Regions from separate parts of the Homo sapiens genome. Here all the other regions are reported to be linked to region 1. The links are microRNA targets in miRTarBase. Many come from high-throughput screens and were not tested one by one. Region 1 holds a microRNA gene; each other region holds the end of a gene's coding sequence.

Region 1 (3,335 bases):
AGATAAAAAGTTTCCTTCTCAGCTGTTGATACGGTGATGAATATGAGGGGGAGCCCACAGATGGTTGTAAGTTCACCCTCAAGTTCTAGTTTTTACAATGGATCCATGGTATTTATTAAGTTCATATTCATAAAGAAGTTAATTAAAACAAAAGGAGAGCCACCCACGGAGATAAGAGTAGGTCACAAACCAATGAATATGACTGATCCAGTTACAAGAAAATAAAGCTGATTGATGTAAATGAAAATACTAATTGGATAGTGCAGGTGACAGCAGCGAGGAAGCTGTGAAGGTGTCTGCTCACGCAGCAGTTGGGAAGGTTGGCCTGAGGCTTTCAAAACCCAGAACGGTTTAGGATCTCAGTCACCACCTCTGGGAACCACCATCATCACTGTTCTTTTAATGAGGGGATCTCCAGTCCCCGCCCTACCTTTCGGCCTCCCCCGCGTGTTGAGGGGTGGGGGCTGGACAGTGACTCTGGGGCTGGGATGTGACTTCGTGCTGGGCCCCCCCAGGTGAAGCTGTTCATGCAGGACCTCTCTGCCATGCTGGCCGGCCTGGGTCAGGCTGAGCCTGCAGCCCCTGCCTCCTAGCCCTGACACAGGTGAGCAGCGGGAGAGGGAACCCCTGAGAGACCCTGAGATAGGAGGGCCCACATTTCCAATGGGGTGTGGACTGAGTGGCTCTTCCTGAATCCGTTTCCTCATTGGGAAGATGGGAGGGCTGTGCCTGTTCAGAGTGCTGTGGGCCTGCCATGAGGGGCACATAGCAAGCACTCCATAAATGCAGGCCCTGATGAGGAGGTGATGGGAAGGTCAAGGGGCTATGTGTGGGGCAACTGCCTCTAAAATGAGATCAGACCAGGCCCTCCCTGCCAGGGTGGTTGGGGCATGAAAAAAAACTCTTTGTCAGGTCTCAGAACAGGGTCCATGCTAGATGAGAGATCACCAAGGCCCCCTCCACTATGGACTCTGCCAGGTGAGGGGCCCAGCCTGAGAATCCAGCTGCTGGGGCTGCCCTTGACCTTCTCAGAACCTCAAACAGGGGGTGGGTGGCAAGAAGACAGAGGACAGGCCAGGTTCTGACCTCCAGGTGTGGAGGGGCCGCGTTAACCTCTTCATAGCCAGAGGGGAGCAGCTGTGTCCTTGCCCCCTGGGCTGGGCATCCTGTTCCCCTCCCCCAGCCCACTCCCAGCTGCAACCATGTCCAGTGGGAGGAAGGGGGACCAACTCCCGCCTCTGGCACCTGGTTTGTGCTCTGAGCTTCACTTTCCTCATCGCTAAATGGACAAGGCAGCAGAACTCACCCTCAGGAGACCCGCAACTCCTCTGCCACGTTAGCTGGGATTTTAGTACCTGGGTCTCTCCATTCCAGTTCCCCAAGTAGACCGCACTCCTGGCCACCAGCAGTGCTCAATAAAGATTTATTACATTAAAAATTCCATTGCCAAACCCTGAGGCACTCAGGGCTCTGACCGGTGCAGCCATGACCTCTGAACCCAGAACACATGGAAGCAGCAGCAGCTGAGTTGCCAACTCAAGTCTTGGCCTGCCTGGCTTTGCTGGCGAACTCCTGCACACCCTTCAAGGCCCTGTTCAAATGTCTCTGTCTTAGGCTGACGCAGCTGCTGCCCTTCTGTGGCCATACAGTGCTCCTTTTCACAGATGATGGCTCCTGCAGGGAGTGCCCCCAGTGCCCAGCACAGGGCCAGGCACACAGTGGTGCACGGGAACGTCTGCTGATGCCCACCCTAAGGCCAATCAAGGAGCCACGGGGCTGGGTCCTGGTCCTCACATCCTCTTCCGCATCTTGCCCTTCTTGGAGCGGGCACCCCGGCCGAAGGCGCCCTGCTGCAGCTCCTGGACGCGGCGGCGGTTGCGGGCAGAGAGCTGCTTGAGGCCACCACGCTGCAGGAAGTGCAGCTTCTGGGCCCGGCGCCGCTGCTTCAGGATCTGCTGCTTGGTCTTGAGTTCCGGGCGGACTCGGCCTGCAGGGGTGCCTGGGGCGTGGGGCCGGGATGCACCTGCTGGGACAGGGATTCAGGGAGCTCAGCTGTTGGGATCACTCCCAAGATCCCCTCCTCCCAGAAGCTTGCAGACTCCTCCCCTGCCCCTACTCCTGTTCTGTGCTTATTGCTGTGGCCCAGTGTCTGTACACAGTAGGTGGCTAATAAAGTTTTAGGCAGCCTCATGGAGTGGTCAATAACACGGGGCCAGAACCGCTGGGGTTCAAATCCCAGCTGTGACCTCTTGGACCGTGGGCAAGAAGTTAACGGCTCTGTGCCTCAGTTTCCCCATCTATGAATTATAAATCACAGCACCTCCCTCATGGGTGAAGAGTAAATGCATTTCCATGGTGTAAAGTGGTCAGAATTTCAAGGCCTGTCCCATAGTGGGAGCCTTTTGGGCATGACTGTTACTATTAAAAATTCTCCAACCAAGGAGTGTATGTCTCCACAGCACACCTACGGCACGCCAGGCTCTGAGGCCCCCCATAGTAACCGATACAGACCTCAGCCTCTGTCTCCATGGACACCATGCTCTAGGCTTGTTAGATGAAAAAAGAGTGTAGATGAACCTTCCTTTAGGTGGGAGAGGAATCAAAGAAGGCCAGAGAGGGAGAGGGACTTATCTGAGATCACACAGCAAAGCAGCAGCAGCAGCAGAGGTCAGCGACCCTGCCCCAGCCCCACAGGTGGGCATCAGGTAGTCCATTCTTCTAGTTCTCCGGGAGGCAAGCACCACCCTCCCTGGCTCCCACTAAGCCCTGTGTCCTCCTCCTCCTCTTCCCCATTCATAACAGCAGCCTCCCCAGGGCTCCTAGAGGGATGACCATTAAGGTGGTCCCAGCTGTCTCCAATGGAGCCAGGGTGCCTCGCAGGACCTATCACCTCCAATGAGGACAGCAAAGGAAGAACAGCTGCTTTTTCCCAAAGCCCACAGGTCGCCCCCGTCTCCCCAGCCCCTGCACGCCCACTGCACGGCAATGCTCGCAGCAGAAGCTGCTGTTTCACCTAGGTAAAAACAGGCTGAGAAGTGAGGTGTGGGTGGTCCCCACCCAGCCATGCTGACAAGGAGACACTCCCACAGATGGGAGAGCTGGAGAGGGAGGAGCCACAGAGAACAGGCCCAGGCAAATGCACGCAGGCTCACAGAGACACCCAGGGGAGGCAGTGACCAGCCCCAGGAGGTGGAGGGACACAAGCAGGGGCTAAGGCCATCTGAGAGAGACCCAAGACATGGTCCCAAACTCCCCTCTCCCCAGGGAAGACTCCAGGTGGGAGCCTTGGGCAGCTGGGTGACCCAGGTTCAGTCATAGCCCTCATAAGGCACCTG
Region 2 (3,000 bases), not on the chromosome of region 1:
GGATGGGGGTCCAAGGAGGTCTCGGGCCGCCCCCACCCCGTCTTGTGTCCATAGCCGACTATATCGTGCTGCAGTTCGGCCGCGTGGCGGAGGACGCCTTCACCCTAGACTACCGGTACCCGCTGTGCGCCCTGCAGGCCTTCGCCATCGCCCTCTCCAGTTTCGACGGGAAGCTGGCCTGCGAGTGACCCCAGCAGCCCCTCAGCGCCCCCAGAGCCCGTCAGCGTGGGGGAAAGGATTCAGTGGAGGCTGGCAGGGTCCCTCCAGCAAAGCTCCCGCGGAAAACTGCTCCTGTGTCGGGGCTGACCTCTCACTGCCTCTCGGTGACCTCCGTCCTCTCCCCAGCCTGGCACAGGCCGAGGCAGGAGGAGCCCGGACGGCGGGTAGGACGGAGATGAAGAACATCTGGAGTTGGAGCCGCACATCTGGTCTCGGAGCTCGCCTGCGCCGCTGTGCCCCCCTCCTCCCCGCGCCCCAGTCACTTCCTGTCCGGGAGCAGTAGTCATTGTTGTTTTAACCTCCCCTCTCCCCGGGACCGCGCTAGGGCTCCGAGGAGCTGGGGCGGGCTAGGAGGAGGGGGTAGGTGATGGGGGACGAGGGCCAGGCACCCACATCCCCAATAAAGCCGCGTCCTTGGCCAAGCGGAGCGGTGGTTCCTCAGCGCGTGCGGAGAACGAGGCGGCAGGAGGCGTCCGAGGCGCGAGCTGGAAGTCTCAACCCCCGTCCCACTCCTGCCCAGGCCCCGGGCGCTCCCGCGTCCCCTCCCCGCGCCCGTCGCGGGTCCTACCGAAACTCGGCGGCCGCACAGCGTCGAGACGCCCCCCGTGGGGGCCCGGGGAGCCGGGGCGAAAGGGAGGGTCCCGGAGGTCGGGGAAGAGGGAGAAAGGGAGAAGAAATTCGAGAAACTAGCCACGCGGGGAGAACCAGACAAACCGGGTCCCGGCAGGGCGGGCGCAGCCGCCAGGGCGGAGCCGGGTCTGGGGCCCCGGGAGTGGGGGGCAGGCCCGCGAGCTGGAGGGTACGCTCCGCCTTGGCGGCTCGGGACTAGGGTGGAGGGGCCGGGAGCCCCGGGGCCCGTGCGCTCCGGCTCTGCCGGGCTCCTCGTGACGCGGCACCCACGGCCCCCGGCACCGACGGGAGCCCTGCCCGCGAGGCGAGGGCTCCGCCCTCGGCCCCGCCCCAGGCCGGAGCCCCAAATTCCGGCGGGTGCCCGGGAGCGGGGCGAGGCCCGGAGCGCAGGGGGAGGAAGGCAGCTCCGCACGGGCGGGCGAGGAGCGGGGCGCCCAGGCGCGCGCCAGCCGGGGTGGCCGGGTCGCGAGGCCGCGGGGTAGGCGGCCCGAGCGCGGCTGGACGGCCCCGCCCCTCCCGGCCAGCACCGCCCCCTGCGCGCCCCGCCCCCTCCTTCCCGCAGCCCCCACCCCCGCCCCGGCTCCTCAACACAAACTTTCCGTCCCGCTCGCTCCCTCCTCCGCGCTCGGCGCCTCCCGCTCCAGCCCGGCTCATTCCGCACATTCCGGCCAGCCCCCTCCCCACGACCCCCCTTCCCCGGCCCCCCTTGCGGCTCCCTCGGGCCCGGCGGAGCGGCCCGGCCGGAGCGCCCCCGCGAGCTCGGACCAGGTAAGCCGGGCGGACGCCGGGAGGAGGCCCCGCTCGGGAGAGGTGGTTTGGTTGGTCGGCTGGGCTGGCTGGGGGGGCGACACTCGAGGGGGACTGGGTCCCCGAGCTATTGTCCAGCCGGAGCTGGAGCCCCGGATCGGGGTGCCGGGAAGTTTAGAGGGAAGGGGGAAAATCTCTCCGGGAAGCCCCGCCCCCCGCCCTCCCCACCCCCCCGCGACGGGGACGAGTTGGTCCGGGAAGGTGGGGAAGCCGGGGAGACCGTGTCCCCTGTGCCGTCGCCTGTCCCGCCGTCCGTGCTTGGGGGGTCGGGGCGGGGATCCGGGGGCCGCACAGTGTGGAGGGCCTGCCTGCCACCCTGGAGCTCATATCCGGGGCGCCCAGTCCCGGGCCCCGCCGCCCTTTGGACTCCCGGCCCGCGCGCTCCCGGAGCCCGCCCGGCCTCAGCTCCACGCAGGCCTCGGGCCCGGCCTCCCAGCGCCCAGGCCGGTTTCTGCGCGCGGTGCCGCGGCTGCGCTGGGTTGTGGAGGGTGTCTGGGACCAAAGCCGCGCGCCCCGGCCGTGTGTCCCCTGAGAGGCAGGGAGGGGCTCACGTTCCCTTCAGTTCTGCCGCCTGCGTCGGGGTGCTGATTCAGAGTTCCAGCCCTGAGCGCTGTGAGCTTGGCTCGGAGGGGTCTGGATTTGGGGCCTTTTCTTCCCCACACTTGCTCAGGGCCCTTGTTTAGACTTGACAAGGTTTGAGGGTGGCTGGTCTCCCGCTTCCTACCCCGGTCCCCACCATTGTCTGTCATGCCCTTTATTCCTGCTAGGGGAGGGAGGGCTGGGAGCGCTGGTCTGGATCTGTTTTCCAGCCCAGCTGGGCCCTGGGGCAGTGTCATTGAGACCCCGCTCTGTCAACTTTCCTGGTGAGGGGCCCTGATCCAGGGCTGAGAGATTCTTTCAGTGCGAGGGGGAAGGAGGCCTTGGGGCGGACTTCTCAGGGGCTGTCTTCTTCTGTGTCTTCCCTCTTTCCAGGTAGGGGCAGAACCAGGTCAGGCCTGGACTTGTTGTCCGGAAGAACAGGGCATAGGGGTAGGGGCTGGACACAGCTCAGAGGGGCTGGTGCCCATAGCGGCTCTGCGTATCCAGTCTCTTGTGGCCTGGTTCTCTGTACACATGTTCCACCCCAGTGCTGGGGCCACCTGGGGCAAGGAGGGGAGGCTTTCCTCAAAAGTTGGAGATTTGGGGGAATTATGTCCTCTCCCTTCTAGACTCCTGTAGCCCCCCTCCCACCAAGACCCCTCTCGTAGGGGCACTCCCTAAAGGATGTGGTTCTGTGGTCTTCTGGGTCCCTGCTCACCCAGTGGGCAGAGTGCACAGATCTTCCAGGACAAGGCTGTCCAGTAA
Region 3 (3,335 bases), not on the chromosome of region 1:
AGCGCTTCTTGCGCACATGATCCGGCTGCTGCGGCTGCGGCGCTGAAGTCCGGATACCCGCTGGTGTACCCCACGCACCCGCTGCACGGTGTGCACTCCTCGCTAACGGCCGCCGCGGCTGCTGGCGCCACACCGCCCTCCCTGGCCGGCCACCCCCTCTACCCCTACGGCTTTATGCTCCCTAACGACCCACTCCCCCACATCTGCAACTGGGTGTCGGCCAACGGGCCGTGCGACAAGCGCTTCGCCACGTCCGAAGAGCTGCTGAGCCACTTGCGGACCCATACGGCATTTCCCGGGACAGACAAACTGCTGTCGGGCTACCCCAGCTCGTCGTCTCTGGCCAGCGCTGCCGCGGCCGCCATGGCTTGCCACATGCACATCCCCACCTCGGGCGCACCGGGCAGCCCTGGGACGCTGGCGCTGCGCAGCCCCCACCACGCGCTGGGACTCAGCAGCCGCTACCACCCCTACTCCAAGAGCCCGCTTCCCACGCCTGGCGCCCCCGTGCCGGTGCCCGCCGCCACCGGACCGTACTACTCCCCCTACGCCCTCTACGGACAGAGACTGACCACCGCCTCGGCGCTGGGGTATCAGTGAGGGCGGCCGGGAGGGCGAGCGAGGGAGAGGAGGGAGAGGGGGAGGGGAGGAGTCCAGGGAGAGGCGGGATCACGGCCCAGGCTGCTGACACCCGCGCGTGGGGAGGACTCGGGCCACGAAAGGAAAGAAATGTATACCGTATCTATCTACCCGACAGCAGCGACCGAGACCCGGTGGGACACTCCCCTTCTCCCCACTTTCACCTCCCCACCCAAACTTTATAAAAGTTGAAAAAATATCATTTGACTTTTTATAGAAAAAAAAAGGAAAAAATAATTGAGAAAGTGTTCATCTGAGGACTGCATCGGTGGACACTGGTATTTATTTATGTTAGCTCCAAGCGGACCGGTGGTTCAAAAGTGCATTATTTAGTTTGAGCTCTGTAGGTAAAAAGGAGGTGGGAAAAATTTTAAAACTTGAGGGTAAAAATGTGGAAAACAAACCCTCCCATCCCTTGTAGATTATAAATAAAAGCAAAACCGCCACAGAACTAGAGGTCTTCTCTTTAATGTTACTTTAAAATTGCTATGATTGTATTGTACGTTATTTAATGTCTGATTGAAACACAAATTTACATGCATGTTTGTTACAAAAAAAATGAAAAAAAAAGTCACAATTTGTCAGCTCTGATTTCAAATTGCAATTATTTTTAAGGTGTATACCATCGAAGAGAATGGGTATTTTTTTGTATGTATTCTGGAAGAAAACAACAAAAAAAAAAAGAAAAAGAAAAAATTCTATTCCAAAACCTCATTTGCCTTATTTTGTTCTTTAAAAGGAACACTTAACTATTTTTAATTTTTAAGTCCACCCGCTGAGAAGGGGACAAGGTTTACGTCATGTACTAAAATAATAGACAATGTATCGCTTTAAAGATTAAAATTCCGTATATTTGATGTATTAAAGGGTTTTACTTCTTCTTCTTATCTTTTTTATTTTGGTTAAAGAGAGCATGGCAGTTTCGGCCGCAGTGGGTTCCGGGGCCTCACTGCTACTCCTTCTTCCCGGGACCGTGGCTGAATTTCCGATCGCTTTGTTGTGATTTTCTGGGAGGCAAAGGCGTCGGAAGGGGCTACCAGCCGCGAAGTTGGCCTTGGGGAACATATTTTTAGAGGATATTTCACCATTTGGAAAATAGTGTCCTCCGCTATCTATCATTTCGTTTTTATTTCAATTTTCTCTTGGCAGCTGGCTTGTTAAAAGTGAAAGGGGGTGTGGGGCGGGGGACAGGGTTTTTGTTAAATTTCCCTCCTGAGCTTTTTGGGCATTTGGGTTTCGTTTTGTGCAGAGTGGAGCAGGCCGGGACTCGCCGGCTGGGCCTGGGCCGGGGCCTCGGGGACGTGGGGCAGCGCGCTGGGGCAAGCCGAATAGACTGGGAGGCGGAGGGGCGCTGGGGGAACCTGTGTCCCGGGCCTGGGGGGAGTACGCAGGGACCCTCTGGTCCCTAGGGGAGAGTGCGTCCTCTTTTCTTCTTCTGGCTGCCCAGGGCCTTCTAAACGCTCCCCGCAACCCTCGCCCTCACCCCCACCCCCACCCGCCCGCTCCTTCCTCCCTCCAGAGTCGGGACCCGGGGCTGGCCGGCGCCACCGCTGCTTTTCCCCGTCCGGGTGGCTCTGCAGCCGGCGCTCTATTCCATTCCGCGCCGCAGGAGAGCCCGCCCGGCCAGGACCCGGAAAGCCCCTCCAAGTGCGGCCCCGCGAGCGTCCCGGCGCCCAGGTCCGGCCTTTCTGGGGCTACCAGGTGGGCACCTAGGGCTCCGCTCTGCAGAAGCGCGGCGGGAGTCTGGGTCCGGGCGCAGCTCCCTGTGGCGCGGGCCGCTGTCTTCTCCCCAGCTTGGGCCGCAGGACAGAGCTGCCCGAAGCGCCGAAGGAAGCACGCAGAAAAAAGTCTCAGTCCCTTTTGGGGGGAGGGGGGCCGAGACCCAGCGCCCCCTCCCAGACGCTCCAGGCCTGGGCGCTAGCCCAGGTCCTCCGGCTAGTTGGGAGCTCTGAGCCCAGAGCGCCCTTTCCAAGGATTCCGGGACCGTGGAGTCACAGCTCTGAGAGCGCACCCCAAACTCTCCGCTCCCTGGGGTCAGGCTCTTCCGGTTTCTCCGAGTCTCGGGATCCCCTCGGCGCTCAGGTACCCCTGTTGCCTCTGGGGACTCACGGCCGCGCGAAGTCAGCCTTTGGCCTCTCGCCTGCGTCCGACAGCCCGCGGCCCCTGCCGCCATTTGCACCGGGATTGGTGACTTTGAGATTTTCCACCCTCCTCCCAGCGCCAGCCTCACGGCTGCAGGGCCTTTACCCGGGTTGCACGCAAAGCCACCCCCAGCGACCTCCCGGACACTGCGGGAAGCGCGCGGGCCGCCTCCTGGAACTGACTTGGTGGGGACTCTGGCTCCGCCGCCGTCTCCACACCCCCGACCCTGATGTCCGGACGTCGCGAGACCCCAGGAAACGGAGCTGGCGCCGAGGAGGACCCCTGGCCCGCAGCGTCTTCGGACGCCGCGGCCCCGGTCCCACTCTGGTCCCGCCGAGAGAGGCTGAGCTGGGCCTGGTTCCTTGAGAATCCTGGCCGGCGGGCTTGTCGCCCCGGCCTCTTGGACAGACATCCCCCGCCCTGCAGGTGGGAGGGCGGGAGCGCGTGGCGGTGCTGCAGCCGGGGTCCCACGCTCCGGTGCCCGCAGCTCAGGACCTGAAAGCCAGGCGTCTACCACTCTCTCACCAGCAGCGGCCACGCGCTCCTGGCCACTG

Evidence for each region. Region 1 holds the annotated microRNA hsa-miR-7106-5p (UGGGAGGAGGGGAUCUUGGG, at 2,067-2,086, opposite strand). A microRNA usually pairs through its seed, bases 2 to 8, with sites in the 3' UTR of a target mRNA and lowers its output. Matches are read on the target gene's strand: a 7mer-m8 pairs with bases 2 to 8, a 7mer-A1 pairs with bases 2 to 7 and ends in A, and an 8mer does both.
Region 2: the mRNA of TULP1 is a reported target of hsa-miR-7106-5p. Seed matches in the 3' UTR shown: 7mer-m8 at 462-468.
Region 3: miRTarBase lists ZNF503 as a target of hsa-miR-7106-5p. Seed matches in the 3' UTR shown: 7mer-A1 at 1,044-1,050.

What each region holds. Positions count from the first base shown.
Region 1 is chr12:113,157,087-113,160,421 of GRCh38, forward strand. It overlaps MIR7106 (microRNA 7106), which reads right to left and starts at 2,091; the gene lies at 2,027-2,091. CFAP73 (cilia and flagella associated protein 73) reads left to right here. Exons shown (of 8, transcript NM_001144872.3): 7 at 516-604; 8 at 1,615-2,190. The coding sequence ends at 593. It overlaps DDX54 (DEAD-box helicase 54), which reads right to left. Exons shown (of 20, transcript NM_024072.4): 20 at 87-2,023. The coding sequence ends at 1,791.
Region 2 is chr6:35,495,515-35,498,514 of GRCh38, reverse strand. It overlaps TULP1 (TUB like protein 1), which reads left to right. Exons shown (of 15, transcript NM_003322.6): 15 at 55-641. The coding sequence ends at 188. TEAD3 (TEA domain transcription factor 3) reads left to right here and starts at 1,436. Exons shown (of 13, transcript NM_003214.4): 1 at 1,436-1,617. It overlaps LOC124901309 (a long non-coding RNA gene), which reads right to left and starts at 382. Exons shown (of 2, transcript XR_007059561.1): 1 at 308-382. RefSeq lists enhancers at 1-529, 530-1,460, 2,407-3,000 and silencers at 929-1,258, 1,269-1,398, 1,579-1,628.
Region 3 is chr10:75,396,014-75,399,348 of GRCh38, reverse strand. It overlaps ZNF503 (zinc finger protein 503), which reads left to right. Exons shown (of 2, transcript NM_032772.6): 2 at 1-1,519. The coding sequence ends at 600. LOC124902461 reads right to left here. Exons shown (of 1, transcript XM_047426122.1): 1 at 1,092-3,335. The coding sequence starts at 3,193. The coding sequence ends at 2,228. Among named protein-coding and RNA genes, the nearest start is that of ZNF503-AS2, 3.8 kb to the left of the region's middle.